2 separate regions of the Homo sapiens genome follow, and region 2 is linked to region 1. The links come from fine-mapping of genetic effects on gene expression. A gene starts in region 1. The other region holds a variant in brackets. All regions are shown on one strand. Distances are between the middles of the regions. Region 1 holds the start of ZNF438 (zinc finger protein 438). Region 2 overlaps ZNF438 (zinc finger protein 438).

Region 1 (16,283 bases):
ACAAAACCACTAGACACACTAGCAACCAAAAAAATTCAAGGCTACTATTATTAGCTCCAAGAATTATTTCCCATTCAGTAAATGAACCAAATTAGCTCAGCTATCCAACAAACTAAAAGCAGTACAACACAATCCTTTGTCCAAGTCAGGCATTTGCCACTTAAAACTACCACCTCCATTTCTAAAGCAAAAAAATAAAAAAATAAAAAAGGAGGAACAGAAGGAAGGAGGGAGTGAAGGAAGAAAAGATATTACAGAATTTCTCAACATCAGGAGTACTGACATTTTGAACTGGATAATTTTCTGTTGTTGAGAAGTTGTCTTGTACATTGTGGGACATTCAGTGACATGCTATAATGGCCTCAATCCACTAGATGCTAGGAGTAATGTCCCCACACACAAATGTGACAACCAAAAATGTTTTCTAGACATTGCCAAATGTCCCCAGAGTGTGTTGGAAAGTAAAAAATCATTCTGAGTTCAGATTCTTCACAGTATCATCTTCCAGTATTTATTTCACACTGCTTGGTGGCTTGCAATGCAGACTGAAATTAATAGCTTTGCAATTGAAGAACCAAATAAGAAAATACTCCCTGTAGAATAGTAACAACTTGAAGAATAATAGCTACGTAGTTATGGTTAAATTATTCCTTTCATCGACATACTGGTTTTGCTTACTATTCCCTAAGAATTTTCTTCTGGGTGTTCTTTTGGGGTTAAAACTTGGTTAACCTGTCACTAAAGCTTAGTCTCCACCTAGACTTACTAATTATTAGCCATTAGTGTAATGTGTTAAAATCAAACCTAAAGATTTTAATTTTTAAGCAACCAAATGTGAAATGAAGCAAAAATAAGTGCTACTTATATAAATTATTTAAATATATTCAAACATTTAGAGTGTAAAGTACACAAACAAGCATCCAGCTACTACTACAAATATATATGAGTTGAAGATAATAATGCAAAAATAAAAGTGATTGCAAGAAGTAGAATTTTGACAAAAACAAGAAATGGGGAAAGGATTCCCTATTTAATAAACGGTGCTGGGAAAACTGGCTAGCCATATTGAGAAAGCTGAAACTGGATTCCTTCCTTACACTTTATACCAAAATTAATTCAAGATGGATTAAAGACTTACATGTTAGACCTAAAACCATAAAAACCCTGGAAGAAAACCTAGGCAATACCATTCAGGACATAGGCATGGGCAAGGACTTCATGTCTAAAACACCAAAAGCAATGGCAACAAAAGCCAAAACTGACAAATGGGATCTAATTAAACTAAAGAGCTTCTGCACAGCAAAAGAAACTACCATAAAGAGTGAACAGGCAACCTACAGAATGGGAGAAAATTTTTGCAATCTACCCATCTGACAAAGGGCTAATATCCACAATCTACAAAGAACTTAAACAAATTTACAAGAAAAAATCAAACAACCCCATCAACAAGTGTGCAAAGGATATGAACAGACACTTCTCAAAAGAAGACATTTATGCAGCCAACAGACACATGAAAAAATGCTCATCATCACTGGCCATCAGAGAAATGCAAATCAAAACCACAATGAGATACCATTTCACACCAGTTAGATTGGCGATCATTAAAAAGTCAGGAAACAACAGGTGCTGGAGAGGATGTGGAGAAATAGGAACACTTTTACATTGTTGGTGGGACTGTAAACTAGTTCAAACACTGTGGAAGACAGTGTGGCGATTCCTCAAGGATCTAGAACTAGAAATACCATTTGGCCCAGCCATCCCATGACTGGGTATATACCCAAAGGACTATAAATCATGCTGCCATAAAGAGACATGCACACGTATGTTTATTGTGGCACTATTCACAATAGCAAAGACTTGGAACCAACCCAAATGTCCATCAATGATAGACTGGATTAAGAAAATGTGGCACATATACACCATGGAATACTATGCAGCCATAAAAAAAGGATGAGTTCATGTCCTTTGTAGAGACATGGATGAAGCTGGAAACCATCATTCTGAGCAAACTTTCACAAGGACAGAAAACCACACACCACATGTTCTCACTCACAGGTGGGAATTGAACAATGAGAACACTTGGACACAGGGTGGGGACCATCACATACCAGTGCCTGTCGTGGGGTCGGGGGAGGGGGAAGGGATAGCATTAGGAGACATACCTAATGTAAATGACGAGTTAATGGGTGCAGCACACCAACATGGGACATGTATACATATGTAACAAACCTGCATGTTGTGCTCATGTACCCTAGAACTTAAAGTATAATTTAAAAAATAAATTTAATTAAAAAAAGAATTATATTTAAATGCTCAGTATGTACTATCACTGGGCTAGACACACTGTTTTCAACAATAAATCTTCATATATATAAAAGTACTCATAAAATAGTTTAAAATTTGCTTGTGCAAATGTAAATTTTAAAAGGAATCTGAATTTTATTTACTATCTAGGATGTTATATTTCGCATGGTCAGTGTTAGAAACAGAGGGTCCTGTTGTTTTCAGATAGAACTTACCATCACTCCCCCTCTGCTGGGAGCTACCTGACACAATTAAATAACCATCAACCTGCCCTCACTGTGCCTGAACTTAAAAGTCAATAACACCTGAGCATCAATAGGCTATTGACTATGCAATTTTACTTTATACCATATATGGGTATCTGATGTTCCTGGGAAACTAACTGCAAATGTGGTGTAAATAAAGACTAATCATTTCAACTCCATTAAATGTAGGGAAGCTACAAGAGCAGATTTAAAACGTTGTGAACTGCAAAATGAGATGGCACCCCTCTACATTTACGTTAGTAGAGGGCTTCTGTTTAGAGTAATCATAGATCTGGTTATTTAGATACTTTCCCAATGAAAGCTTAAAACAAAATATAATTTTATATATTTTTAAAAATTCTGAAATTAACCATAAAATCTACGGCAGTGCAATTTTATATAATTCTTACATGGTTTAAATTTGAAATACTCATGTTAGGAAGTAACAAAATTGTGACAACTGTTGAGGTTATGGTATGCCATGAAAGATCTACGGGAACAAGACACATCTTTTTTTGTTTGTATTTTTCTAGTCTCCATGTTCTACAATGATCCAGCTATACGAGATGTAATCTGCAATTCCACCTACAATATATATCACCAGATCCCCTTTCTATGACAAAAAAAAAATACATGTCAATGTTAGAGATGGTCAGCAAAGAAACTCAAACTTATTCCAATAGGTGGAACTTTGGCATGACACACTTAAACCGGTGGAAACCTGCCTGAATACTTCACCCAACCCCTCCATCACCCTCTATTATGCAAGCTGCAACATTTCAAGCCAACTCCCTTATTTCTCTGGTGAGCCCTGTCAACACTGAGGTAATAGAACTGGAAAAACTCATCACTTCAAAAGGACAGTCAAATATCAGAATTTATTTCATTTGGTAAAAATTCTATCATTGCCAAATAAAGCTAATGCAAATATAGTAAAATATGCATGATTTTGAGTAATTCTTTTGTTGAAAAGGACTCTTGGGGAGCCTCAACTTCATCCTGCAACAGCTTAGGCATTCTTTTGCCCCTTTGCCCTTTTCATGCCCCATCTCACAAGTCATGGAAGCTGGGGAGGGGAGGGTGCAGAAAACCCAAATGAACTAATCGGCATGTATTTATGCATTTAGTCTACTCTAATTTTATTCCCACAGGTTTTTCCTCATACCCTGCTCCTCTAAGGTAAAGAACTGTTTTATTCATCTCTGAACTTCCAAAACCTAACCAAATGCCCATTATATAAAGTCATCCCTAACATCTACTACACAGCAGGCACTGGATTAGGGACTAGAGATAGAGAAGTCAAAGAGACAGACCTTGCCCCTACGGAACCTACAGTGGGGAATACCAGATACTGGCTGCATGAACCCAGTCAGGTCGTAATCAAAGACCAGTTAGCACAGTCCCACTGCCTATAATCTTTCTCCCACAGACAACCAAAGCTTAGATGAAAAACAAAAGCATGCTTTCTCTTCAGAAAAATAAATGGGTATCTCCAACCCTGACCACTCCCCTGAGTTCCATATTCACAGGCATGCATACTCAACATGTTCACTCGGAGGTGGTTACAGGGATTCAATGCATGGACTCCAAAGCCACAATGCTTAGGTTTGAATCCTAGCTACATCACTCACCAGCTGGGTGACTTCAGACAAGTCACTTATAACCTCTTTTTGCCTCTATTTTCTCGTGCTGTAAAATGGGGACAATAATGGTTCCTTGCACATATAATTCTTATGATGATTAAATGAATTAATATAGGTTAAAGTACTTAAAACCCTGCCTGGGACTCAGTTTACGCTTACATAATACTATTTTTACTAGCACTGTTGTTATGACTATGTCTAACAGGCATTTAGAACTTGTGCAAAACTAAATTTGTAATTTTCCTCAGTAAACAGCACCACTATACTTCTAGTTGTTCCAGCCTAAACCTAAAAAATCATCACTTCTCCCTTTTCTTCAAATTCCACATCAGCTCGTTTCCCGTCAGCTCTACCTTCAAAACGTATCACCAATTCTACCGCCTACCATCATCTCCACAACTAACCTCCCCCAGCCCAAACCACCATCATTTCACCTGCAGGGCACAGCAGCTTTCTCCCGATTTTCACTCCATCCGACCCACTCTAATCTACAGTTAATTCTCCATACAATAAAACTTAAATCAGACACCAGTCCCTTGATGCAAACCTTCCAATGGTTTTCCATCACAGTTAGAACAACATCTTTACTTCACCACAGCCTACAAGGGACCCCACGGCCTGCCTGGCCCTTGACCATCATTGGCCACTACTTTCCCCGTTCCCGGCTGTGCTCTAAACACTCTCACTGTGTCTGGACCACCTCAGAGCATTGTCCTGTGCTGTTCCTGCTGTGAGGCCGAAAATACAGTCACCTGGAGCCTGGACTCTGAAGTCAGACTGCCCACGTTCAAATAGTCTCTACCACGTTTTAGCTGTGCAACTTTGGCAAATTCTTAACCTTTCTGTGTGTCAGTTGCCTCATCTATGAAAGGGAGATACTAGGTTACATCAAAAGACTTGTAAAAATTTAATTTAGTGTTCAGAATAGTGCCTTACATATGGTAAGCTCTACTTTTTTTAAGTGTTCATTGCTATTAATTATTCCTCTCTGAAATGTTCTTACCTCAGGCTCTTTCCCTCACACTTCAAGTGTCCCTGCCTTTGAATGGCTTTTCCTGACAGATCCCACCAAAAACAACCTTCCCTGTTCCCCCACTGTCCTCCTTTCTTCCTTCCCTTCACTGCACTTATGACTACCTGAAATTACATTATGCACGTATTGTTCGTTGTCTATTTCCCACTGCAATATGAGCCCTGCTAGGTTGGAGGCTGTCTTCTTTGCTGCTCTATTTCCAGAGATTTCTGACTCACATCTCATCCAGGCTAGGGGACCAATGCGAATCTCCTAATAACAATAGCACACTTAGCCTTTCATTTGCACTCTCGTGATCTCATTTGATCCTGGAAAAACCAACAAACAGATAAACCATCGGCTCTCATTTTAGATAAGAAAAACAAAGTTCCAAGTTTGCGTGACTTGTCCTTGGACACGAAGCTAGTTAACGAATAGAACAAAAATTAGAAGCCCTGCTTTCTGATTCAAAGGCTCTTCCTACCTGGATGAAAAGATATCACACTCCTGAAATGAATTTACAGAAATGTGAACTCTCGAGCTCCTGTATAAATACACCCTGAAGTGTGCACAGTATTCTTCCCTTCAAAGTTCCTGAAGACTACTAGTCCCGGAGTTTGAGAGGCATTATAGTCTAGTAATAACTAATCGATAATGTAGTACCCCTTGACCAAAATATTCAAGCAGTCAGATACGATGATTGGATATTCCAAATCGATACAGCAATCCTTAAAACTCAGTGAGTCTGTGTTGTCTATAATGTGCTAGTTCCAGCACACTGAAAGCTTCCTCTGCAAAACCCAGACAACGGGGGCATTGTAATTGCCAAGAGTACCGTGCTAACGATACCTGTTATTTCTTGGGATCCCCATTCTATCAAGTTTAGTGACAACAGTTCGATCACCCAACAGGCTCCAGTGTGGTATAGAATCAGATGGAGGGAAGGTTGTCGGGGGGAGGCAAAACAGTGAAAAAGTTCCCCTTCTACAAGATTCCTGGTCAAATAGCCAGTGGCTACCACATTCCTCAGAATAACCAAGTGTCTGTGTATAAGCTTTCTCCTAGCAAATTTACACACTTGTGTTATCTCACGTGTTCCTAGTGCTGTGGGAACAACCATTAGGGAGGCCAGAGGCTGCTGTACCTCCCTTTTACACAAAAAAGAAAACTGAGGCAGCAACTGGTTATCTTATAAATGTGTCCACGATGACTTGGTCACTTGTGGGATCCCAACGGCCAGGACATAGGATTCCTATTCTCTGAGAGGAAGCTTCCATCCCCTACTTAACATGTCAAACTCCAAGGCTGAGAGGGGGAAGAAAAGGAATCTAAGTCCCTTTATCACGGAAGAAAAAAAGGGACTCTCCATTTGGACTTTCCGCCCCTTCTAAGGCCTCGCTCCCAGGCTCGGAGACGCGCCCCGCCCCAGGGGAAAAGGTGCTGGCCCGGCCCCACGGGGCGCGGCCTCGCCTCCCGCACCCCAGGTCCCTACCGCCCAGCAGGGCGCGCTGCCACTCTGAGCAGACACCTGTCCCTTCGCCACAATCGGCGACTCCCCAAGGAACTGACGCCCCCAGAGCCACCACCACCGCCGGGACTGCCAGCTGCCAGCGGGCCCCGCAAGCCCTAGGAGCTGCAGGAATCCTCGTAAACTTACAGTTTTCCTACAGCGTGCGCGTCACAGCGGGGTGACGTCACGGGCCCAGCAGTCGGGGAGGTCAAGCCACGGGGCGCGGGCCGCTGGGCCCCCAGGCTCCGCCCTCGCCCCGCCCCGGCGCCGCGGCGGGAGACACGCCCCCGAGCTCCACGCCCTCGAGCTCCACGCACCTCCCCGTAGCAGACACCCCGCGCAGGCGCAGACGGCCTCTGCGCCCGCATGCCTGTGGGCTTCGCCGACCGGGGCGCCTGCGGCGGCGACTGCTCTACCAAAGCCTCACTCAAAGCCTGAAGTCGGGGTTAGAGGAGGAGGAGGGGCCGACAAAAGGGGACGGAGACCTTCAGAAATACTGTAAACAAGCTGTCGCCCTGGGGGCTGGAGTAAGACGCCTGGGTTGTGAGGTAGTTTTTCCACAGACATTGCCCGCCTTCCTCACGTGTTCGTTAAAAGTTCTCCACGTGTGGAAACAGCCATTTGCTCTCCATCAGGTGCTGGCGGGTCCTCAGCCCTGAAAAGACAGCTCTCCCAGGGTCCCTCGCTCCTCCCCGGCTCGACGCGGCTCCCGCTAGACTCCGCCCAGACCCCGAGCAGTCCCCGCCCATCTCTTGACTATGCCCCTCCCACGCCCACTTAGGCCTTGCCCCTGGGTCCCGCCCTTCCGGCTCCCGCCCCTGGCTCCCGGCTCCCGCGGGCCCCCACCTGCCCTTCTTGCCCTGGCGCCGCCTCCAGCCCAGCCCGTTTCTTGCAGATTTTAGCTTCTCCCTTGCCTGCCGCCTTTCCCGTTTCGGCTCGGTGAAGCTACCTATGGGTTGCTGTTCATTTAACAAACGGTGATCCGGATAAACATGTTCACTTCTTCGCCTGGGCAAACTTTCCAGCCCCCGACCCACTCATGTCACGATACCTTCCCGTGTCCAAGTCCGGCTCTCTGCTCCCCACTTTTTTTTTTTTTTTTTTTTGAGACAGAGTGTTTCTCTGTCTCCCAGGCTGGAGTGCAGTGGCGCGATCTCAACTCACAGTACCCCCTGCCTCCCGGGTTCAAACGATTTTCTTGCCTCAGCCTCCTGAGTAGCTGGGATTACAGGCGCGCGCCACCACAGCCGGCTAATTTTTATGTTTTAGTAGAGACAGGGTTTCACCATGTTGGCCAGGATGGTCTCCATCTCTTGACCTCGTGATCCGCCCGCCTCGGCCTCTCAAGGTGCTGGGATTACAGGTGTGAGCCGCCGCGCCCGGCCTCTTTGCTCTTTTATACTCTCAGAAGCAATGAGTTCTGGTTAAAAAAAAGGGCTCGATAGACGGAAAAAATGAAGGCTTAAAGAACTGACAACAAAATATTAACATTTGGCTTGTGGAATTCTTACACTCTCGTAAGCAGAAAAAACAAATGTTATGGCAAAAAAGTGTCTCAGACAAATCCGTCTTGGGGGGAAAAAAATTAAAAGAATGAGAAAAACAGACTTCGGAATAAATAGACCCAAAGGAGGAAGTATTGAAAATGGCAAGATTCACTTTTACAAACTTATTTGGAACCACGGCAGATGGCCAGGGCAGGGATTTTGCAAGGCAGCTCCAGTTGTAAGTAAAACCTGAAACAATGGTTTATTTCCACTCTCATTGAAAGTGCTGTCTTATTTTTACAGGAAAGAGTGATGATGGGAATATTAGGCTTTAATTCGAGATCTGAGCTGGTTAAAAATAAAAACGTTTATTATTCCAGAAAAATCTACGTCAGTGTTTTTAAATGTTCTGATTTGAAAAAATATTTGTATATTTTATCTGAATATTAGTTATTATCAAATGATGTAAAAGAAATTTGTAAAGGCTGTACCATAATTGTAACAATAAGGTTTTTCTGTAGAGCAGAGGTATAGAAAAATTAACATTTTTTAAAGTCCTGCATATTTTTAAAACAGTGATATTTATGTTTTTCCTTGCAAAACAATTTTAAGAAACCTTTAAATTGTTAATAGTTTACATGCTTATAAAATGTTTTATATATATCATTTCTAAAAATCGTAATTTTTTTAAGTGAGTTTCTAGGTATACCTTATGGGAGTGTTTCACAGGTACATGTCATCTGTTATTTTTTGGAGTGGAAATGGGTAAGAAGCATACACCAAATGTATCAAATGTTTTTACTATAGATACTTTTGCCTCTGAAAGATGGCATTGTAGAATATAGTCTTCTCATCGTATTGTTCAGTATACTTTCTCTTGAAATCTCAGGTATTCAAAAAAAAAAGTCGTTGTTTTGCTAGATGCAGGAAAAAAGTAAACGCAGTGAACAAAAGATGGCCAACAGTAAAGGTACCCAAGCAAGGATCACAGTCTCAAGGAATGTCAAGTAGAAATTTGTGGGAAAATACCACTCACGTTCAGTCAACTTTCTGTAACAAACTGGAATTTGACCTAGACAGGAAGTGAGAAGCTAGGGCCAAAAGTGTTGTTATTAAAGAGAGGATCTGCTTTTTTAAAGAAAATAAAACCCTGGACCTTGGAGGTTTAGCACTGGAAGCACTGAGGCCCTCCACTATGGCCCTTGGGCTTTCAGTTCCCCCTTGTGATTCTTTCTCTTTGATATCTGCTGCCCATAGCAATCTGGCTTCCAGAGCCCTCTATGTCAATACACACATCTCTTCCCTTGGTCCTGCTTAGCAAGCTAAGAAAAGCTGAATTAAGACAAAACAGAGTACTTAATGTATGGGGAAAATAAAAGTGAAAGAAATATAATTCCTAATATTTCCTGAGTATTGATTCTGTGCCAAGCATTGCATTATTTCCTTGAATTCTTGCAACTAGATAAGAACTGTTACTATCCCCATTTTAAACACAAGGTAAGTAGGTTAAGTGCCCATGTCACACAGCTGCTGAGTAACACAGTCAAGATTCCAGACTTCATACTTCAGAACCCACAGCCATAACCACTAATCTGTCTCAAGTTTCATACAACCAGGCACAAATTATGCAAGAAACAGAGGGACTTAGGAAGTCCAAAATATGGACTTAGCTCTAAAATACTGACCACAGTGTATGGGTATCTTCTTCACTGTTTTCCATCCCATCTTTGCATGACTGCTTTTATTTGATTTTTTAAGGTGGTCATCATGACCCAGTAAGTTGATTTTGTGATCGGTTAAAGGGTAGCTACTCAGAAAAACACTAATCAGAATCCAAAATACAAAATATCAGATTGTATCACATGTAATAAGGGTATTTTTTTCCCAACACAAATTAGGGGAAACTTTCAGCCACATGTGTGTATTCTGGGTTGCAACGTTAAATGTATTTCATACTATGGATTTCAATCAAAAAAAATTTGAAAAACACTATTATAACCACGCCTTGCCTAACTAACATGCATCATTTATCCTTCAGGATCAAGACCAAGGGAAACAAAATCCCATTCTGCAATCCCCTTACATTCCTCTCTTAAGTCCCAGGATCTGGTTTGATGATCTCTTCCCAGGTAATTGACATAAAAATCAGGTCACTCCTGATTAGAGATAGGCCCTTGTCTCCAACTCAAACCCAAGAATATACTAATAACAACAAAATAACCATCTATAAAACAAGAGTTACACAGGTTAAAAGGGGGCTTATTCTGCCAAAGGAGCAGAGATAGAGACTTTGCTGGAAGAAGACCTGGGACAGAGATTGGAGAGCTCTGGAGGGATGTCTGTTTAATAACAGTCTTACAAGTCTGCAGTTACACAGTTTGCACAGTATTTCATCTCATTTTATCACCTCCCTTCCCTCATCATTTTACTTAGCTAATTCTCCCCAATCCTTTAGGTCTCTACTTTGCAGGAACTGACTCTGAGAAGCCTTCCCTAAGCAGCTTTGGCTCTCTGCATTGCAAATTATTTTAATTGCTTCTTCTCCTAGACTGTAAGCTCTGTGAGAATAGGGGAAATGTGAGTCTTAACCTCGAATCCTCTACATGTAGTATCCCAAATAGATTATCAGTTAATATGTGTAGAGGAATGCGTGGTGAATGGATGGATGAACTCGAATTCAAAGACTGGGTAGCTTTCTTACTCAAGATGCTAGTTATTTTCTAAAAAGGGGATACTGTCAATAGAAATAATTCTGATGAGAAAATTCCTTTAGGAGACAAGTCATTTTGAATGGCAATGCAGCATAACATAGTAAAGCACTGAACAGGGCCAGCTCTGTTATTAACTGGGTACTTTATGGCAAGTCCAGTAACTTCTGCAAGCCTCAAATGGGGTTAGACTTACTAAATATTACTTATTTATTTTTGAGACAGGCTCTTGCCCAGGCTGGAGTACAATGGAAAGACCATAGCTCACTATAACCTTGAACTCCTAGGCTCAAGGGATTCTCCCACCTCAACCTCCTGAGTAGCTGGGACTGCAGGCATGCACAACCACATCTGGTTATTTTTACTTTTCATAGAGATGACATCTGGCTGTGTTTCCCAGACTGGTCTCGAACTCCTAGCCTCAAGCAATCCTCTCGCCTGGGCCTCCCAGAGTGCTGGGATTACAGGCATGAGTCACTGCTCTGGGCCTCACTAAATGTTATCCTTGATGAATGTCCTAACAGGATGTTATCCCTCTGGTAACTCGGAAATCAGAGCAGGCCACCTGGAGCCTTATTTACATGAGGTCTCCTGAAAGACACTGACAGCCACTGGGGGATAGCAATTAATTCTCTTAAACAAAGGATGTTAGACAAAGGCTGTCCCCAACAAGAAGGGGTGGAGGGAAGCGAGGAGGGAAATGGAAAGACAAGGAACCTGTGTCCTTGTTCTGAGAAGCCCAGTTCTTGATTTGAGTACAGGGCCTGGAGCATGCTTCTGACTGTAAAACGGAAAGAACCAAACTGTCCTTGTGCGTGTATTGGGATTGGAGAACAGGGAAGAAGGTACAGGAGAAAAGATACCAAAAAGATTTCTGGCCAGGCACGGTGATCATGCCTGTAATCCCAGCACTTTGAGAGTCCTAGGCAGGCAGATAGCTTGAGACCGGGAGTTCAAGACCAGCCTGGGCAAACCCCATCTCTACAAAAAATACAAAAATTAGCCGGGCATGATGGTGTGCACCTGTGGTTCCAGTTACTTGGAAGGTGGAGGCAGGAGGATCACTTGAACCTAGGAAGGTTGAAGTTGCAGTGAGCCATAATTATGCCACTGCACTCCAGCCTGGGTGACAGAGTGACACTTTGTCTCAAAAAAAAAAAAAAAAAGATTTTTAATTCCTCAAGGGAAAAAAACCTCGCCAACTACATCAAGACATCATAGCAGACAGGCAGAATGTTCCAGAAACAGTCCTTTAGGCATTCTGTTCTTCCCTGGAATCTGCTTGCTTTCTTAGCCCTTGGCGAAGGTCTACTGATTCTTGGAGTTCAAATTCTATCATTAATTACCTCTGCTGATAACAGCCAGCCTTTACTAAACTGGTACTAGATCTAAGACGTCACAGAGCACTCCATATGAAATCTTTTAATCTTCACAACTCTATGAGGTAGCTACTATTATTATCTTATTTTGCATATGAGGGAAAAAAGTGAGACCCAAAGCCATGGGTCACTGCTGTGGACTGAATGGTGTCTCTTCTGCCCCCAACCCCCCAGTTTGTGTGTTGAAGTCCTAACTCCCAGTGTGACTGGATTTGGAGACAGAGTTTTTAGAAGGTCCTATGCTTTAGATATTGGTGTCCCCTCCCAAATGTGTGTTGAAACTCAATAACCAATGTAATAGCATTAAGAGGAGCCACCTTTAGGAGATGATTAAGTCATGAGGGTGGAGCCCTTGTGAATGGGATTAGGTGCCTTATCAAAAGGCATGATAGAGGGAGTTCATCCTTTCTTGTCTGCCATGTGAGGACACAGTGTTTCTCCCCTCTGGAGGATGCAACATCATGGCACCATCTTGGAAGCAGAGAGCAGCCCTCACCAGACAAGGCAGTCTGCTGCTGCCTTGATCTTAGACTTCCCAGCCTCCAGAACTGTGTCTAAGTAAATTTGTTTATAAATTACCTATAGTATTTTATTATAGTAAGACAAATGAACTAAGGAGGTGAGATTAAATAAGGTCATAAGGACGAGGCCCTAATCCAATAGGATTGGTGTTCTTATAAGAAAAAGAGGAAGCAGAGTTCTCTCTCGCCACAATGTGAGGACACAGTGAGAAGGCACTCATCTGCAAGCCAGGAAGAAGGCCTTCAGCAAGGAACCAAATCTGCAAGATCTTGATTGATATTGAACTTTTCAGCCTCTAGAACTGTAAGAAAATAAATTCCATTGTTTAAGCCTCAGCCCAAGCGTACTAAGATAGTTACATTGCTTAAAGTAATCTGACTCCCCCTTACAAACTTTACTGTATCTCCCTGCTTTGCCCAGGTGGTCAGATCATTTCTTCTCCCTGTTCTTCAACACAACTTCTCCTATAACGCATACAGTATTTCTTCACTTAAACACACTTATTTTTTTAACATTGAAGTATCTCTGAAATTAGAATTCATCTTGAAATTGAAGAATATCATAGTTTAATTTTAGGAGGTAAAAAAAACTAATGGTTTCTTATAATTGGTAGCACCTTAGATTGAGTAACACATATTATAATTGTTTATGCTTCTTTTGCCCCCCCTCAGCTATGAATCCTTTGAAGACAGACACCGATTTACTCAACTTTGTGTTCTTAATACCAAGCACAGTTTCTGGCACAATAAAAAGGAATTTTACAAATTTCTTTAATCCAGTTGAAGAAGGAAGGTCATCCACCCAATGGGGTGATGGGTGGGTAGAATCTAGGAGTCAAAAGTCATTACTGTTGTCGCCAAAACTCATGGATGTCCCCAAGACCTTAATGGCCTGTGAAAACAAAGTCACAACTTCTCTGAAGTTTATCCCAGTTAAGTTCTATCTGCCTCTAAAGGCCTGTAATTTCTCCCCTTGGCAATTAATTCAGCAGGTTCCTTCTCTGCTTGACAAATTGTCATTTATTTTCCATCCTTCATGTTTGGTTCAGGCCATTTTTAATCCATTAAGGCAGTTATATTAATGACAAAGTAAAATTTTAAAATCTGATTTTGCAAACTCAAGTCTAATTGCATTTAGAGTTTAAGTGGAAGGTGGCACTCAGCTCTCAGAGGTGTTTGGTCTGATTCATATTGTGTTTTTTAAATTTTGAAATGAATATCAGAAAACACATTTAAAAAGCAAGTTGTATTAGTACATTTTCAGGATGCTATAAAGAACTGCCTGAGACTGGGTAATGTATAAAGGAAAGAGGCTTAATTGACTCACAGTTCTGCATGGCTGGGGAGGCCTCAGAAAACTTACAGTCATGGCAGAAAGAGAAGGGGAAGCAAGAACCTTCTTCATAAGCAGCAGGAAGAAGTGCTGAACGAAGGGGAAGAGCCCTTTATAAAACCATCAGATCTCGTGAGAACTCACCCACTATCAGGAGGACAGCATGAGGGAAACTGTCCCCATGATTCCATTACCTCTACCTGGTCTCTCCCTTGACACATGGGGATTATAATTCAAGATAAGATTTGGGTAGGAACACAAAACCTAACCATATCACAAGTATTTTGGCTTTTTCTGAAAAATCAGAAGCTCTGACAGTGTTGTTCCCCCACTCACTCAGGGCATTTATTATTGGAATGAGGCTGCCTGGTTCAAAGGCACAGATGTTCCACATTTTCCTGTAACCCCAACTGGGTATTATTTAACCTATCTGCCTGGCTCCTGAAGGCCCTTGAGTTTATGATGACTCTTAAGTGAAGAGCTTGATCATTTAAGCCTCCAGCTTAAGAATGATCATAAAACCTGCAAAATGAACAGCTTTGCCCAGAAATTCATTAATGTTGTACATGAATTCATGATTTTTAATAGTTACATTTGCCCCTATGAATAGATTTTTCACAATTTTTATATCTATCTTCTGGAGAAGGAACTTTTTGTGCATTAGGAATTACCTGTTAAGGTGTCAACTTTTGCTATTTAAACAAAAGAGAAAAATACTTAATAAAGTTGAAGTGTAAAATAGGAAATTGGGTTTCCAGTGTGGCCCTGCATGTATAATGTTGTGTTGATGGCACTCACAGAACACACAGTCCTACCTAGCTAAGAGTCCCATGTGTTTCTTTCCCTGGGGCCCTCTCTTCTCACATAACACATGAGAGAAGGGAGGTGAATGTTTGTTAGCTATCATGTTCACATTTTATTTTATGCCACAAATGGTAATAGCAGTCACTTTCTGATTACATTTAAAACTGAACTCCAAGGCTGCACAGAATGTGGGTATCTAATTCTTCTGTTATTATGGTGAGAGTCTCTTGCCTAGTCATACAATATGTGCTACTATTGGTATTATTAATGTTAGTTGGGATAACTTCTTAGTGAATGAGAGAACACTAAGACAACAGGCCTAAACAAGATGATTCAAGCTTATTTTATTTAAGAATGTCTGGATATAGGTGGTCCAGGATCAGTTTGCCCAGGGTGAGGCCTGGGCCTCAGGCTCCTTCCATCCTGTTGCTTGGTCATGCATGATCTACATTCCCAAAATCACCAGGATTTCAGCCTAGCTCTGGTGATCCCCCAGCCTGTAGGAAGGAGAAGGGTCAGAAGATTCTGCCCTTGAACTCCTTAAATTCTACCTGCTCCAAGAATCCTTTCTCAGCTAGTTGAGAGATTAGATTGGTAATTTCTCTTAAGAATTAACTAGAAACTTACTTTTAGTAGAGTTTAGGCTGGATGTGGTGGCTCACACATGTAATCCTAGGACTTTGGGCGGCTGAGGGAGGTGGATTATTTGAGGTCAGGAGTTCGAGACCAGCCTGGCCAACATGGTGAAACCCCGTCTCTACTCAAAATATAAAAATTAGCCATGTGTGGTGGCGTGTGCCTGTAATCCCAGCTACTCAGGAGGCTGAGGCAGGAGAATTGCTTAAGCCCAGGAGGTGGAGGTTGTTAACAAGATTGTAAGGTGGAGATTCTAGATATAAAAACAGTAAATTAGGGCTACCTGACAAACTTTAAAAGCATTTCTCAGGTGCTGCTGTTGGTCCAGGATCCATACTTGAAGAACCATTGCATGTCTGGGTGCAGTGGCTCATGCCCATAATCCCAGCACATTGGAAGGCTAAGGTAGGAGGATCACTTGAGGCCAGGAATTGGAGACCAGCATAGCCAATGTAGCCAGATCTCCTCTCTAGAAAAATAATTTGTTAAAAATTAGCGACAGAGTGAGACCCTGTCTCAAAAAAATGAGTTACCAGTGGGTTCACACACACTGCAGGTTTTGTCAATGACTCACTTGTATACAGAACCATAAGAAGTATGTGTGCCCAGGAGAGCTGGACTTCAGAAAGCCCAGGTTAGGATTCTGGACAGACAATCCTGAGGCCAGATCTGACTCAGAGGCATGAGACTTCAGGTCTGTG
Region 2 (16,283 bases), 41 kb before region 1:
TCATGTAAATGTGATATTTCTACAAATGTTATACTGAAGAGAAAAGAGTTAATTGCTGAAGTAAGATATGCCCCACTGTCTACTTTGCCAGGAACCTATGAGATCAAATTACTTAATGTTTCAGAAATCTCTCTTCAAAAAATGCTTGTCACTTACCTATATCCCAAGGCTCCTGTAGAGTCATAAGATATACCGTAAATCCTTTTAATTAATTCTGTAACAATACAAAGTATTATTATAATCATATTCAGATAATCCATTTTCATCAAATATATGTAAAAGGTGCCTTCTTTTCAAGTTTCATTTTTAATTACTGTATATTTTTATTAAGATAATAAAAGAACTAATGTAGAAGAAAATAATTCCATAGTTGATTACATGTCTTTAGTTTAAAAATGAAAGCATGCAAAATTTAATAAAAGTTTTAAGATAAATAGAAAATGTTCCAGAAAAAAAGAAATGCCACAATGAATAAAACTGGCTAAGAAGAATGCTTCACATTCTTTTCCATGTGCATAATACTGTGGAAATTAGTAAACAGTCACAAACAAGTGATTCATATTCAGGGCGCAGCCTTTTTGACAGGAAAACAGTAATCAAGAGTTTGGGATTTGAAGATTTTTAAAAGGACACATGTCTAGTAAAGTGTGTCAGTTTGCCTGAGACAGTCCCAATTTACGGCCATTGTCCCAGTGTCCCACAAATTTACCATTTGTCCTGGATTTTTCATTTTCTAATGATTTTTTTTAATGATAGCATTAAAATATGCTAAGACTTACTTGTACTTTTAGGCTCTGCCATAATCTCATTGAGCCATGTGTGAGATGCATGTGCAATGAAGCCAGTTGTCAATTTCGCAACTTGCTTAAATCTTTAAGACACCTAGCAGTAACCCATTTCTAAATGTACTAAATGTACTGTAACTGATACTTCATTCTTAAAGACAGCACCCAGGCACCATGCAGAAAAAGTATACCTAGGCAGGAGCAGGTAGGGACAGCTAACTCCTCCAGTCTTGAATGAAGGTAGAAGAAATACTGAATACTGCTCCCTGCTCATGGCTAGCTTAAAGACACGGATTTAATGAAAGCAGACAGGACAGAGAAAGTGTTTTACGTATTATTCTCTAAAGCATGACTTTTCATCTAGATCCAATGACTTTTTAAAAAAATGCACTTAGTTCTGATTCTAAAGCGTCTCTTTTACATCATCAAAGTAAAGTGAAAACTGGTTGGCTCCATTAACAGAAAAACTCACAGTTAAATGTTGCCAGCTTTCTGTCAGCATCAGGAGATGTACCAACCAGAAAAATCAGTTAATTCCAATAATGGTTTGATGATTTCATCTAATTCATGAAACCAAAGTAAAGCTTTTGGAAGTTCATTCTGTAGAATATGAAACACTTGACATTGCTTTAATTGCTACTTAAAAATCAGTTTAGAAGTTCAACAACAAAGACAAAATTACCGTTGGTTCTCCTTATTCACAGTAGTTAAGTTCTATGAAGTCACCATGAACACTGAATTAGGGAATACCAAACTGTTTACTCATAAGGGAAATTCAGGGTTGGGTTCCTGAGAGCTCCTGAGAGCCTCTGATTACATTTTAATTAGCTGATCAAACATAACCTCATTTTATGTATATTTCTGTTTCAAGATACCTTATTAATATATAGTCATCCACTGCATGATGTGTCAGTCAACAACAGACTGCATATATGATGGAGGTGGTCCCATAAGATTATCAAGCTATATTTTCACTGTACATTTTCTATGTTTAGATAAATAAATATTTACTATTGTGTTACAATTGCCTACGAATTCAGTATAGTAACACACTGTACAGGTTTGTAGCCCAGGAACAAGAGGCTATACCAAATAGCCTACGTGTATAGTAAGCTATAGATTCATATCAGTACACTCTATGATACTTTCACAATGACAAAATCACCTAATGATACATTTCTCAGAATTTAACCCTGTTGTTAAGCAATGTATGGCTGTTCACTGTTGAGTCACTAACACTGAACTCATAGCCAACAGCACTATAAGTTTATCTATCACATGCATTTTCTCCTTAAGGCACATCACAGCCTTCTTGCACTTAGGCGCAATATACAGCACTTCAGTTCCACACTGGGTAGTCATTTTAAACACAGAAATCATAAGCCTAAAAAAGCAAAAATCATGGCACTATATAAACCACAAAAAGGAGACTTGTTTACCGTATGAGAGCTGAAGGAAATCAGCTTGTCAACTAGGAATGTGTTGAGCAATCCAAATTTTTCACCATTCTGTACCATTTGCAGTCATGCACTCAGTTGAATGCCTAGTGTCATGAGTATTGATTTTGCAGTTACAAATAAATTTTATAGGTTCAGTATCCCTTACCCTGAAATGTTTGGGGTCGGAAGTGTTTTGAATTCAGAGTTTTTAAAAATTTTGAAACATTTGCATTATATACTTATTGAGTATCCCTAATCCAAAAATCTGAAATCCAAAATGCTCCCATGAGTATTTCATTTGCGCATGACCCTTGAGGATTGTGTTGAGCATCATGTTGGCACTCAAAAAGTTTAGGATTTTAGAGCATTTCTGATTTTAGATCAGAGATGCTCAATCTGTAGTAAGCAGACGAATTCATGAAAACAAAATCTGTGAATAATAAGGGTCAATTCTATTTGTTTTTACAGTGATAACACAATTACAAACCTTGGTTGAGTACAGCATCATAGAAAGAACAATGTTCTTACTAAATTTAAAAAATGGTGAAACAGAAATAAACTTGGACTTGGCTGTGGTTCACATATAATTCACAGCTGTGCCCAAAACTGCAATATATTACCAATCAAAATTGGGGGAAACATATTTTACAACTGAATCCACAAAAGATGTGACATTCTACCAATTAAAATTTACAAACGTTTATACACACACACAGGGTTAAAAAAATTGAACTAAGGCTGGGTGTGGTGGCTCACACCTGCAATCCCAACATTTTGGGAGGACGAGATGGGAGGATTGCTTGAGCTTGGGTGGTCAAGGCTGAAGTAAGCTGTGATCACACCATTGCACTTCAGCCTGGGCAACAGAGTACACCCCTGTCTCAAAAAAAAAAAAAAAACTAAAATATTTGTGACAAAGCTGATGCTGAATTAAAAAAAAAAAATTCCAGCATGATAGTCCATGTTTTCTTTTTGTTATCTATCTTAGAATTCTTTGAGGCTTAGACTTTGCAAAATCATCAACATAACGGATGATTTTCATTCAAACATTACATTCAAAGTCAGTTGAAAATAGCTATGGACTAAACGTTTGTGTCACCTTAAATTCTTATGCTGAAGCCCTAATACCCAATGTGATGGTATTCAGAGGTAGTGCCTTTAATTAGCGTTAGATTAGGTCATGTTGGTGGGGCCCTCCTGATGAGATTAATGCTGTTATAAAAAGAAACAGATCTCTCTCTCTCTCCCCACCCACCACCCCCCATCCAAGTGCACACACCCAGGAAGGGCCATGTGAGGACATAATGAGAAGATCAAACCAGGTCTGCAAACCAAGAAGCAGGCCCTCACCAGAAACTGATCTGCTGGTGCCTTGATCTTTGACTTTCCAGCCTTCCGAACCGGGAGAAATGAATTGTTGTTTAAGCCACCCAGTATGTCATATTTTGAGAGAGCAGCCCAAACTAAGACAGAAATCTTTTATTCAAGATTTAATTTTTATGGCGAACTTACTTTTTTACTTAAATAAGTTTATATTATGTACTAGAATAAAATGAACTTGAGAATGCCTACAATTTAGCAGCATCTAAATTTGGTTAAGATGTTTAAAAGATTTCCATAATAGACACAATTTATTTGACAAGTTTGTCATAAAAATTTTATTGAATAAAGGTGCTGTAAATCGAGTTTACTGTTTTTTTTAATAGTAGCTTTGAAAATGTATGTGCTAGAATATTTACATATTAAACTATTACAAAATAAAATTTAATAGAATTTGCTTTGAACTTACCAGGTACCTCATTATCGACATAGAGATTACATTCTCAAATTTAAAAATCACAATTTATATAGAAAACAGTAACTTGAAAAAAATCAATAATTTCAAATGTAGCAATCACAAAATGCAACCTGAAAAAGACTACAATTTTATGAAGCAATTAAAGATAAAATACAACCGTATTTTTAAAATTTTTTTTCCAGGAAAATACAGAGAGCTGTATTCTGTGGAGCTCCTTAGTACTTTCTAATCTCCCTTATGTAGTATATTATTAGTCAGGGTTCTCCAGAGAAAGAGAGAGATAACAAGATTATAATTATTGTACCTAATAAATATATTAGTACAAATTATAGCTAAGAAACTAAATAATGTAAGCTTTTACTGAGAATTATATTTACGCTATTTTTAATGTTAAAACAGTTTTGCTTTAATGAATATAGCTATATGTTAATATGTTTTAGAAATAACTTTATTTTTAAAATAATTTCTTAATAGGACTATTTTATAGGTTCGCCAATATGATGAAACCAATTTGTCAGTCAAGCAATAAAATTATATAAGTTTACAGTTTTTTAGAAAGAATATCAATTTTGGCAATAAACAGTTAACCTAGATGTGACAGTTAATTTTATGAGTCACTTTGGATAGGTTATGATGGCCAGCTGTTTGGTATAACACTAATCTAGATGTTGTGTGAAGGTCTCTGTGGATGTAATTAACATTTATAATTAGTTGACTTGAAATAAAGCAGACTCCATACTGTGGTGGGCCTTATTCAATCAGATGAAGGCCTCAACAGCTAAGATAAAAGTTACCTGAAAAAGAGGCAAGTCTACATCAAGATGGTAACATAGAAATGCTGAGTTTCCAGCCTACTAGCCTATTTTGCAATTTTTACACTCAAGACCATTACCAACTCTTACTTAAGTATATAGCCTGCTGCTGTATTCTACATGTTTGATTTGCCAACTCCCAAAATCCTGTGAGCCAATTCCTTAAAATAAACTCTATATCTTTCTCTTGTTCTCTCTCTGTTTCTCTGGAGAACCCTGACTAATAATATACTACGTAAGGGAGATTAGAAAGTATTTAAGGAGCTCCACCAAAAGGAAGCTGCTCCCTGATAAGAGTAGAGAGAAAGGGTTTTATTTTAAGAAACATGCAAGTAAAGAAGAATTAACATTAGCATTAACTTCTTTTAAAGAAGAACAGAATCCCAGATTCTATGGCCACATCTTCCTATACCAGAATGATACATAACCCAATAACCCTGACCCTTAGCTTTCAGAGAACAGGGACATATCTTACATCTCTTTGTATCCCCTTTCTAGCAGTGAGTGTGAGACAGAGAAGATGCTCTAAATGGTTGCTGAATAAACTAAAGTCTCAGAAGACATCTCCAGTCCTAAATGTGATTAAGGGGGCGAGAATGTATGCAAAAATATGGATTTTAATGTTTTGAGTAGTATTGTGGTGTTGTCATTCTGAGACTGTTGTGTGTGCACTATAGGATGAAAATACATAATTGTAGGACTTTCCAGTTCTATAAGCACTCATATCCTTGAAAACAGAGGAAAGAGATACAGAAAGAAGATTTAAACACACTATCATCTCCACCATAGTCTCAAGTTTGAATTGGAAACACCAATATAAACTTATGAAATATTTTTATTTTATCTTCAATATGTGCACATACTTCTGATCTCTGTCTACAGAAAGGGCTGAGAGAAAACATGATCACCCCTTAAACAGTAGGGCTTCTAAGAGAAATAGCTGAATCTAGGACTCAGGAGCTAAGTTTAAGAGGCTTCCATTGGCCAAAGATGGAATAATTTGAGCTTCAGTGATGGTAATACTTGAAATGAATTAACTAATACGTTAAATTCTAAAAGTTCATAATAATATTCTTAAAAAACTGGTCACCTTTAAGAGATGATAGAGAACCAATTCATTATCTTAAGAAATATATCAAAGGGAAAAAATCAAGAATTTATGTTACCTGTCTTTTGAGAACTCTGGGTAACTGAATAAGAAATAAGGACATGTATCTCTTTATAAAAATATTCCAATGAATAAATGAAAAAAATAAAAAGAATTAGAATGTTACTATTTTTCAAACCTTAATGAACAAATAGATACAAATAATATGCATAAATGGCTGCTAAGATCACAAAAAAAGATGCAACCAAACATTGACAGTAGGTTATCCAGACCAGCAGCCTCAGCCTCACTCAGATACTTGCCAGAAATACAAACCCTCAGGTCCAACCTCCAATCTCCTGAATCAGAAGGTTTGGGCATAGGACCCAGTAATCTGCATTTTATTATTACAAGCCCACCAGGTGATTCAGAGGTATCCTAAACTTCATTAAATTCTATGTATAGAACTGCCAAAGGAATCAAATCTGAGTCTGATCCAGTTCATGGACAGCTGCCAATTTATAGGAATTATAGAGGTCAGAGAAACGTGTGGATCTACACCACAAATACGCACACATTAAAATCCAGAATGTGGGAAATTCTACAGATCAAACCTCCCAGGTTCTTCAACAGGTAAACTGTATGAAACTTAAAGGGATGGAGAAGGAACGTAAAGATTAAGAATCTATAAAGTAACCTGTATAGATTAAGAGAGATTGAAGATATATCTTTTTTTTTTTAATGAGCAAAACCAAGAGACAACTTCCAGAATGGAGGAATGAAGAGTGCCATAGAATTTCTCCCCAACAAAAACAATTTAACTGGAAAAAAAATTGTTTAAAACAACCACTTAAACTGGAAATTGTTTGAAGAGTATATAATAAATGGAGAAACATGCATTCAAGAAAATATTCTAAATCTTGGTAAGAGCCTGTCAGTGGCATTTGAGCCATGACCTGCTCCCACCTTACCTCCCCTGCACCTCCAAGCTCTGACTTATGTCTTAGTCTGTTTTACTTACTCGAGAGCTCTAGTCCAGAAGGTCCGGTCAAGAATATGGGGGCTCCTTTTCCCCTCAGCTCCCAAGCTGGGGCTGCATTTTCACCCTGGTAGAACAAGCCACTGGCACTGTTCATTTTCCCTAGCCCTCTATGGTAGAGTTTCTATTCTGTAGAGGCACAGCTGAGAGGGCCAGGGCTTCCTTACTCTAGCCAGCCCTCATTTGTGGGGCAAAAGTTCTACTCTAGGTGCAGCAGGCTGAAAACACTGGGCTTCTATCACTCCTGGATCAACTTGCTGGTGGGGCAAAGGTTCCATATCCATAGGGGCAAGCCAAGAAGACAAGTGGCTAATGCCCATGCTCCCAACACCCTTTTATAGCAGGGGTGTCACTCTGGAAGAAGTGAGTCACTATTCCTGCCCCCAGTTTCTGTGCAGTGGTGCAAGGTTCTACCTGTGGGGAGATGCAGACTGGAGACAGCAGCCCTTAAGGACAAAAAGTTCCTCTGCTCTGTCTGAGGGAATTGACATAGTTAAGAAGGTGCTCATGGCCCCAGGATACAAGCAGCAACCAACAAATTAGGACTATCAGAAGTTTAACAGAACTAGAAAAAGAGACAGCCAGCTCACAGTAAACACAGAGGTCAGGAAGGCTGTGCCCAAGTGGGAGGCTGCATCCACTTGAGCAATCAGAGCTTGATATGGGCACAAGCCACACAGATCAATTAAAAAAGGAAGCTTCACTGTCACTCGGGGGCTGAAGTATAACCTCTGATCAAACAGTGGCTGAACAATAAGCTCTTCTGCCCCAAGATCAACTCCTAGGAAGCCAGGCTTTAATATGAAAGTATCCCTGGCAGTTTACTAGACTGTGGGCATGCTCAAGGCTTGCTTCGCTCAGGAGTGACTGGGAATGAATAATCCAAGCTACTAATCTATGGCTGAACATGGGGCAAAACAAACTTCTTGCCATCTGCAAGACCCTTGCCAGATGTTAGTACCTTACTCTTGGACTTCCCAGCCTATACACTGTAAGAAATAAATTTATTTTTTGGTATTCTGTTATAGCAACAGAAACAGACTGAGACATAAAATTGGTACCAAGACGTAGGATTTTTGCTATAATATCTGAAAATGAAGAAGTGGCTTTGGAACTGGGTAACGGGTAGAAGCTGGAAGACTGTGGAGGAGCTGGATAGAAAAAAACCTGCATTGCCATAAATGGAGCATTAAGGGTGATTCTGGTGAAGGTTCTGAAGATGACTAGAGAAACTCTGAATCTTCTTTTTTTTTTTTTTTTAAGACAGTCTTGCTCTGTCGCCCAAGTTGGAGTGCAATGGTGCAATCTCAGCTCACTGCAACCTCTACCTTCCAGGTTCAAGTGATTCTCCTGCCTCAGCCTCCCAAGTAGCTGGGATTACAGGCATGCGCCACCAAGCCCCACTAATTTTTGTATTTTTATTAGAGGAGGGGTTCTGCCATGTTGGCCAGGCTGGTCTCAAACACCAAACCTCAGGTGATCTGCCTGCCTTGGCCTCCCACAGTGCAGGGATTACAGGCGTGAGCCACCGTGCCCAGCCTGAATCTTCTTAGAGATTACTTAAGTGCTCATGACCAGAATGTTGATAGAAATATGTAAAGGTCATTCTGAAGAGGCCTCAGATGGAAATGAGGAGCAAGGTACTAGAACTTGGAATAAAGGCCACACTTGTCACAAAGCAGCAAACAGCCTGACACGCCTCAAGGCTATGTCCATGCCCTAGGGGTTTGTGGAATGCTGGACTTGAGAGTGATGAACTAGCATATCGAGTGGAAGAAATTTCTAGCAGCAAAACATTCAAGATACTGTGTGGTTACTTTTTGCTACTTACAGTGAGATTTGGGAGCAAAGGGATGACAAAGACAGAATTTATAATCAAATGAAAAGCAAAGTGGAAAGATTTGGAAAACTCTCCTCAGGCTGGCTATGTAGAATTTAAAAAGCTTGTTTAGGAAAGGAAACCAAGAATGTGGCCTAGCAACCATTTGCTAAAGAGATTCATATTGATACAAGGGACCCAGAGGCTATTCATCAGGACAATTAGAGAAAGACTCCAAAAGGCATTTCACACATCTTCAAAGCTGCTCCTCCCATCAGAGGCCCAGAGGCCTAGGAGTGCAGAATGGTTTTGTGGGAGCCCATGGCATCCATGGCATTCTGCACAGCCCGCTGTCCAGGACTGCCTCAGGACTCTGCTCCCTGCACCCCACAGCAATGCTCTGTGGCTGCCCCAGTCATGACCCAAGTAGCAGCAAGTGTGGCTCAACTCACCACTCTGGAAGGCACAAGCTATAAATTTTGGTGGCATCCACAAGGTGCT[A/G]ATTCTGCAGCTGTACAGAATGTAACAGAAGTGGGGCTATGGTAGTTTCACCTAGATTTCAAAGGATATACCAAAAAGACTGGTGCCCTGGCAGAGACTTGTCAACAAGGGTAGACTCATTGCTGAGAGCCCCTCGTAGGGCAATGCCTAGTGCAGCCAGAAGCAAGGCCGCAGCAGAGTCCCCACTAAAGTAATGCCTAATGGAGCTGTGGGAGCAGGAATGCTGCTGAGATCCCAGAACTATACCACCAGCATGCAGGTCCAACCTGCGAAAGCCACAGGCACCCAACTGTAACCTACAAGGGCTGACATATGGACTGAGCATAGTAAAGCCACGGGGTGGAACCACTTGAGGCCTTGGAGGCCCAACCCTGCACCCGTGTGCCCATGATGCAGGACATGGAGTCAAAGGAGATTATTCTCCAGCTGTAAGATGTAATGCTGTTTTCCTTGTTGGGTTTTCGTTTTACATGGGATCTGTTACTCCTTAATTTTTTCCTGTTCCTCCCTTTTGGAATGGCAATGTCTGTCCTACGCCTGCTCCACCACTATATTTTGGAAGTAGGTAACTTATTTGATTTAACAGGCTCACAGCTGAAAAGAATCTGCCTGAAGGCAAATAACACCATGTGTCTCACTCAAATCTGATTTACATGAGACTTGGAACTTTGGGCTTTTGAATGCATGATAGAATGAATGAAGACTCTGGAGCTACTGGGATGGAATGAATGTATTCTTAAACACCAGAAGGACATAAATTTTGGGTGCCCAGGGTGGAATGCTATGGTTTAAATGTGTTCTCCAAAGGTTCACCGTATTGGAAACTTGGTCCTGAATGCAGAAGTATTGAGAAGTAGTACTTTTAAGAGGTGACTGGGTCATGAGGGTTCTGCTCTCATGAATGGATTAGTAGATTAATAAGTTACTGGATTAATGGGTTATCACGCAGGTAGGCTAGCTATCACAAGAGTGCATCTGTTTATAAAATCCAGTTTTGTTCTCACTCATGTGCCCTCTCAGCATGTGATGCTCTGTGCCACCTTGGGACTCTGTAGAGAATTCCCACCAGCAAGAAGGCCCTCACCAGAGGCTCGCACCATGCTCTTGGACTTCTCAGCTTCCAGAACCATAAGAAATAAATTTCTTTTCCTTATTGGTATTGGTCTTTGGTATTCTGTTACAGTAACAGAAAATGGACTAAAACAGATGCCATTAGGAGAAAAAAGAGGCAGAAATAATACTTAAAGAAATAATGAGGCTAGGCATGGCGGCTCACATCTGTACCTCCAGCATCTTGGGAGGCCGAGGTGGGAGGATTGCTTGAGCCCAGGAATTTGATACCAGCCTAGGAAACATGGTGAGACCCTGTCTCTATAAAAAATATTAAAAATTAACCAGGCAGGGTGAAACACACCTGTAGTTCCAGCTACTCAGGAGGCTGAGGTGGGAGGACTGCTTAAGCCTGCAGTGAGGTAGAGCCTGCAGTGAGCTGAGATCATGCCACTATACTCCAGCCTGGGTGAGAGAGTGAGACCCTATCTCAGAGAGAGGAAAAAAAAAAATGAATGAAAAAGAACAAAAAATAAATAAATAATGGTTGAAATCTTTCCAAATTTGATAAAAGAAAAAGAAATATGAATCTACACATCCCCCAAGGAGCTCAACAAATTCTAAATAGGATAAATACAAAGAGATATACTTCCAGACACATTACAGGCAAAATCTTGAGAGCCAAAGACAAGGAGAAAATCTTGAAAGCAGCAAGAGCAAAATGACCAGACAAGTACAAAGCAGCCCCCAATACGATTAACAGCTGACTTCTCATTAGAAACAAGGGAGGCCAGAAAGCAATGGAATTAAATATTCAAAGTACTAAAGTAAAATACTGTGAATTATGACTCTAATATCCAGCAATACTGTGTTTTTAAAATAAAGGTCAAATTAAGGCATCCCCAGAAAAATAAAGACAGAAAATTTGTTGCTAGAATATCTGTTTCACAAGAAATACTAAAGGAAATTCTTCAGGCTAAAAGCAAGTAACACCAAACAGTAATTGGAAGCCCCAAAAAACAAAGCATGCCAGTAAAGGAAATTACGTACATTATTGCAAAAGACACTGTAATTGCATATTTCTTCCCCTTTCTTCTCTTAACTGATTTAAAGAATAATTCAATAAAACACTGTAGCTATAATTTAATTATTGGGCTAACAACATTTACTGCTATACATTTAGACAATAACAGCACAAAAGAAGCAGGTGAGAACAAAGTTCTTCGGGAGTAAGAAAATGACCCCAGAGCTAACTCAAATATGCAGAAATATGTAAAGAAAATAAAAAATAGAGAGGTCAATACAACTAACTATAAATACGTACTTGCTCTCCCTTGTCTCAGCTTCTTCAAAAGACATAAAGTAAAAATTACAACAGTGTGTTGTTGGGTTTGACATAATAGGTACATCAATAATAGCAGAAAAAGTTGGGGAAGGAAATGGAGCTAACAGAGGAAGTCTATTTTGCTGAAAGTAAGTATAAATCAGAAGTGAAATTCTTATAAATCGGGATGTACACTGTAAACCCTGGAGCAACCACTAAGAAAATAACTCAAAATATATATTTTTAAAAGTAGCAAAGGAATTAAAGCATCACACTACAATATATCTACTTAATTCAAAAGAAGGCAAGAAAGGAAAGAACAAAAAAGACCTGAGACCTATAGAAAACAAAATTCGTAACTGCAGACAAAAATCCAACTATATCAGTAATCACATTAAATGTGAACAGATGAAGCAATCTAATCAAAAGAAAGATTATCAGGCTGTATTTTTATAAAAGAAAAAGAACAAAGATCCCAACTATATAAAATCTACAGAAGACACATTTTAGGTTCAATCATACAAATAGGTTGAAAGTAAAAGCTATACCATACAAACAGTAAACATAAAAGAATCAGGCAAAATACATTTTAAAGCAAGAATATAATACTAGAAATAAAGAGAAACACTTCATAATGACAGAAGGGTCAATCCATCAGGAAGGTATAACAATTAGAAGCATATATGCACTTAACAAGAGAAGGAAGAAAAGACAGTTGAAGGGATACACAATTGAAAAATAATAATTGGAGACTTCCCTCTTTCAATACTAGATAAAACCACCAGGAAGAAAATCAACAAGAATACAGAAGATTTGAACAACACTGTAAGACAGCCAGACCTACAGACAACTATATAACACTCCACTCAACAAGGCAATATGCATTATTAAGTGCACATGAAACATTTTCCAAAAGAGACCACATGCTAGGCCATAAACAACCTTCAATAATTTAAAGAGATTAATCACACAAAGAATGTTCTCTGAAACAATGGCATGCAATTAGAATACAAATCAGTAACAGAAGGAATTTTAGGAAATTCACAAAGATGGGAGGGAACCACACTCCTAAATAACCAATGGGTCAAAGAAATCAGAGAGAAAATTAGAAAATACCTTGAGATTAGTGAGAACTAAAACTCAACATACCAAAATTTATTGGATACAGCTAAAGAAAATAATACCCAGAAAGACATTTGTAGCTATAAATGCCTATATTAAAAAAGAAAGATCTCAAGTGGATAATCTAATCTTCCACCTTAAGACAGAACCTACAAAAAGAAAAGCAAACTAAACCTAAGCAAGCAGACGGAAGGAAATAATAAAGAATAATGTACAAACAAATGAAACAGAGAATGGAAAATCCAGAAAACAAAGACACTGGCAAAGGATTTGGGAATCAGGTGGTTATTGCTGTTGATAGAAAGGAAGGTTCTTATTAGGAGGAACAAAATCCAGATTGCAAGGAATTTAAGGAATAAATGGGAGGGGAAAAAAATGAAGGCAGCATATGCAGACTCTTCTTTCAATAAGCCTGAAGAAAAAGAATGAGAAGACTGAAAATGAACGCAAAAAGAAATTATTAACAAAGTCTTCTAAGAGGCAGAAAGGAATTAAAGCTCTAGGCAAATAAATTGGCCTTGGAAGATACGGCAGACACTAGTGGTTGCCTACCTAGTCTTCCCTTCTTTCTGAATAACAAAATCCTATTTTTTTTTTTTTTTTACCTTGGGAGGAGTGAAGGGCCATGAATCTTGACTAGTCTAAGCCAAACACAGGACTTCCGTACCCCTCACCACTGACTGGCTTAGAAACGGGTATAGGATGCAATTTTAGCTAATGAGGTCATGTTTTCTAGGAGGCTTCTAAGAAAGTTTTCTTCATTTTAAAAAAAGACATAAGAGAGACACCTTCTTTTCTTACAGTCATGGGTGCTTTGATATGAGTATGTCATTCTTGGAGTTAAAGCTGCCATCTTGAGATGAGGAGGGGAAAAGTCTGAAGACAAAAGCCAACTTATCAGGATGGTAGAATGAAAAGACAGAGCCAGAGAGTCTGATGATAAGAGTTAGCTGCTATATAAGCCAACAAAAAAACTATCTTTCTTCCAGATTTCTAGTTATATGAGACAATAAAATGCAGTTATTACATACGATACTTTCAGTTGGGTCTCTGTCACTTACCAGCTGAAAGCATTCTAACTGATATAGAAAGAAAGATACTTTCACAAGACAGATGTGGATGAAATTAACTTTGCATGTTGGAGATAAGGGAATTTGAGAGTTTCAGCCTAAAGTTTCATTTATTAAAGAAAATGAAACTCATATAGATCCATTTTACAAAGGGAGTGACCTTAACAGCTGCTGTTTCTTGCTTTAAAATATCAAGTATTGGCTGGGCGCAGTGGCTCATGCCTGTAATCCTAGCACTTTGGGAGGCCGAGGCGGGTGGATCATGAGGTCAGGAGTTTGAGACCATCCTGGCTAACACAGTGAAACCCCGTCTCTACTAAGAAAAATACAAAAAATTAGCCGGGCATGGTGGCGGGCCCCTGTAGTCCCAGCTACTCAGGAGGCTGAGGCAGGAGAATGGCGTGAACCCGAGAGGCGGAGCTTGCAGTGAGCCGAGATCACGCCCCTGCACTCCAGCCTGGGTGACAGAGAGAGACTGTCTCAAAAAAAAAAAAAAAAAAAAAAAAAAAAAAAAAAAAAAAAAAAAAAATCAAGTATTACTAATGATAACAATAGCTAGTAATGAAGACGATTATGATCATAAGCTCATGGTTATTAAAGTATTTTTAAAGCTAGGTATTTTATCCTTTATTGTTTACCTTCTGCATTCTATTTGACTTCAATAGTGAAAACACACCGATCTCTTTTACTTTCTGTTTATAACAATTTTCATGGCAGTTTCATTTTTCATACTTTCATGGTATATAACACAGTATACCATGATATAGTTTACAGAGGGAATCCTTAACTTTGAAGAACAAACACTTTGAAAACTAAACAATTTATAAAAAGATTTCTCTATTTCCATACACTTTCTGAATCTGGTCAAGAAAATAAAACAACATTTCAACTGCATCTGTGCAATGATAGCTTTGATTCATATCAGAAGACGGAAAATCAACACTGTAGCCACATAGATACATACCAGAGAAAGCACACTTTTAACAGAAATAACAAAAAACACTAGAATTGTGCTCTTATCCAAGCGGTTCCCAAATGGAAAAAAAAAAATCTGAAAGTTAAATTGTAAGACAGCTTTTGAAGCCCAAAACATTTTTCCTATAGAAACAACATTACTATGAGTCATGTCATTACTAGGCCAGTCCATAAAAGCCTTGTAAAACCATATGCATAAGACTGTTGTTTGAACTATACCAAAGTAGAATAACAGTTTTTCCTTGGGAAAATACATCATTTTCTCCCTCTTCTCTCTACTAAGTCCCAGAGGAGTGGGCCTCACCAGGGGCTCTGTTCACCTCTCGGAGCTCAGCAGTCATCTCCCTCACTCTGACACTCCATGGTGAGCCACACTGAACTTCTCCAACCTGCAGGGCCTCTCCACTCCAAGTCATTACTGTTATGACCTTCCCTTCTTCTTCTTGTAGGTCACCACCACTCAGCCTTCTGGTCTCAGCTTAATGCTACTTCCTCAGGAAGGCCATCCCTTGTCTCCACACTGAGTCATGTGTTCCTGATGTGTGTGCTCTCACATGACACTATACTTTCCTAACACAGCATTTGTCAATCTCCCCCATAAGCTCCACTGTTTCAGGGATTCATTTCATTTGCTATTAATGTTAAGGTCAGAAGACTGCCTGGCATTTTGACGATTCTTTACACATATTTATTTATATGAATGATTTCTCATAAGATACTTTAATCGTTTTTAACTTGATCTATGGTCATTACCAAGGAAAAGGGGGGGTTTCCAAAGAAGACTTCTCCTCCCCTCAATTTACACCTAGAGATTGTTCATAGGGAGGAAGCTACCTATCCAATTTCTTTCCCATTGCTGGTTTATAGTCACTTAAATGGACATTAAAATTTTAGCAAATAGGTATATTTTCTTTATTTGTCTTTTTAGAAGATGAGGCCTTTGAATGATGAAGGAATAGGTATATTTTCTAATATTAACTTTATCTCTTTTTTGTAGGTAATGTCACTCATTCTCATGACTTTTATGTCGGCAACGAAATGCTTATTCCCAAATTTGTGTCTCTATGCTTGATTTTTCTCTCAAGCTTAGAATCCAAACTTTCAGCTGTCTACAATTTTTATACCTGAATGTCCCACAAAAACTTCACCCCATCCCCCTGCCCAAGCTTTCTTTTCTCTGGTATTCCCCATTTCAGGTATTTCAGATAATGACATCACCATCTAGCCAGCGGAGTCTCACACCCACGTTATCTCGTCCTTGTTAATTATTCACTGGACCATGGCCTAACAGTGTTGGCATCACTTGGGAGCAGAATCTGAGGCCCCACTGCCAGACCTATTGAATCAAAATCTACCTTTTAACAAAATCCCTAGACAATTCACATGCACATTAAAATCTGAGAAACACTGATGTATAATTCCTTTTTCTCTCTACCCCCACAAAACTCTGATACCAAGTCTA

Evidence for each region. PIP is the estimated chance that this variant, and not a neighbour inherited with it, causes the effect.
Region 2: its variant is fine-mapped to the expression of ZNF438 in blood mononuclear cells (TOPMed, PIP 0.92).

What each region holds. Positions count from the first base shown.
Region 1 is chr10:31,024,972-31,041,254 of GRCh38, forward strand. It overlaps ZNF438 (zinc finger protein 438), which reads right to left and starts at 6,894. Exons shown (of 7, transcript NM_001143768.2): 1 at 6,862-6,894. It overlaps LOC105376481 (a long non-coding RNA gene), which reads left to right and starts at 7,537. Exons shown (of 3, transcript XR_001747410.3): 1 at 7,537-10,330. RefSeq lists silencers at 6,556-7,115, 14,156-14,356.
Region 2 is chr10:30,984,213-31,000,495 of GRCh38, forward strand. ZNF438 (zinc finger protein 438) reads right to left here. Exons shown (of 7, transcript NM_001143768.2): 2 at 157-214. Among named protein-coding and RNA genes, the nearest start is that of ZNF438, 40 kb to the right of the region's middle. The variant A/G (reference allele first, on the strand shown) is at 9,281.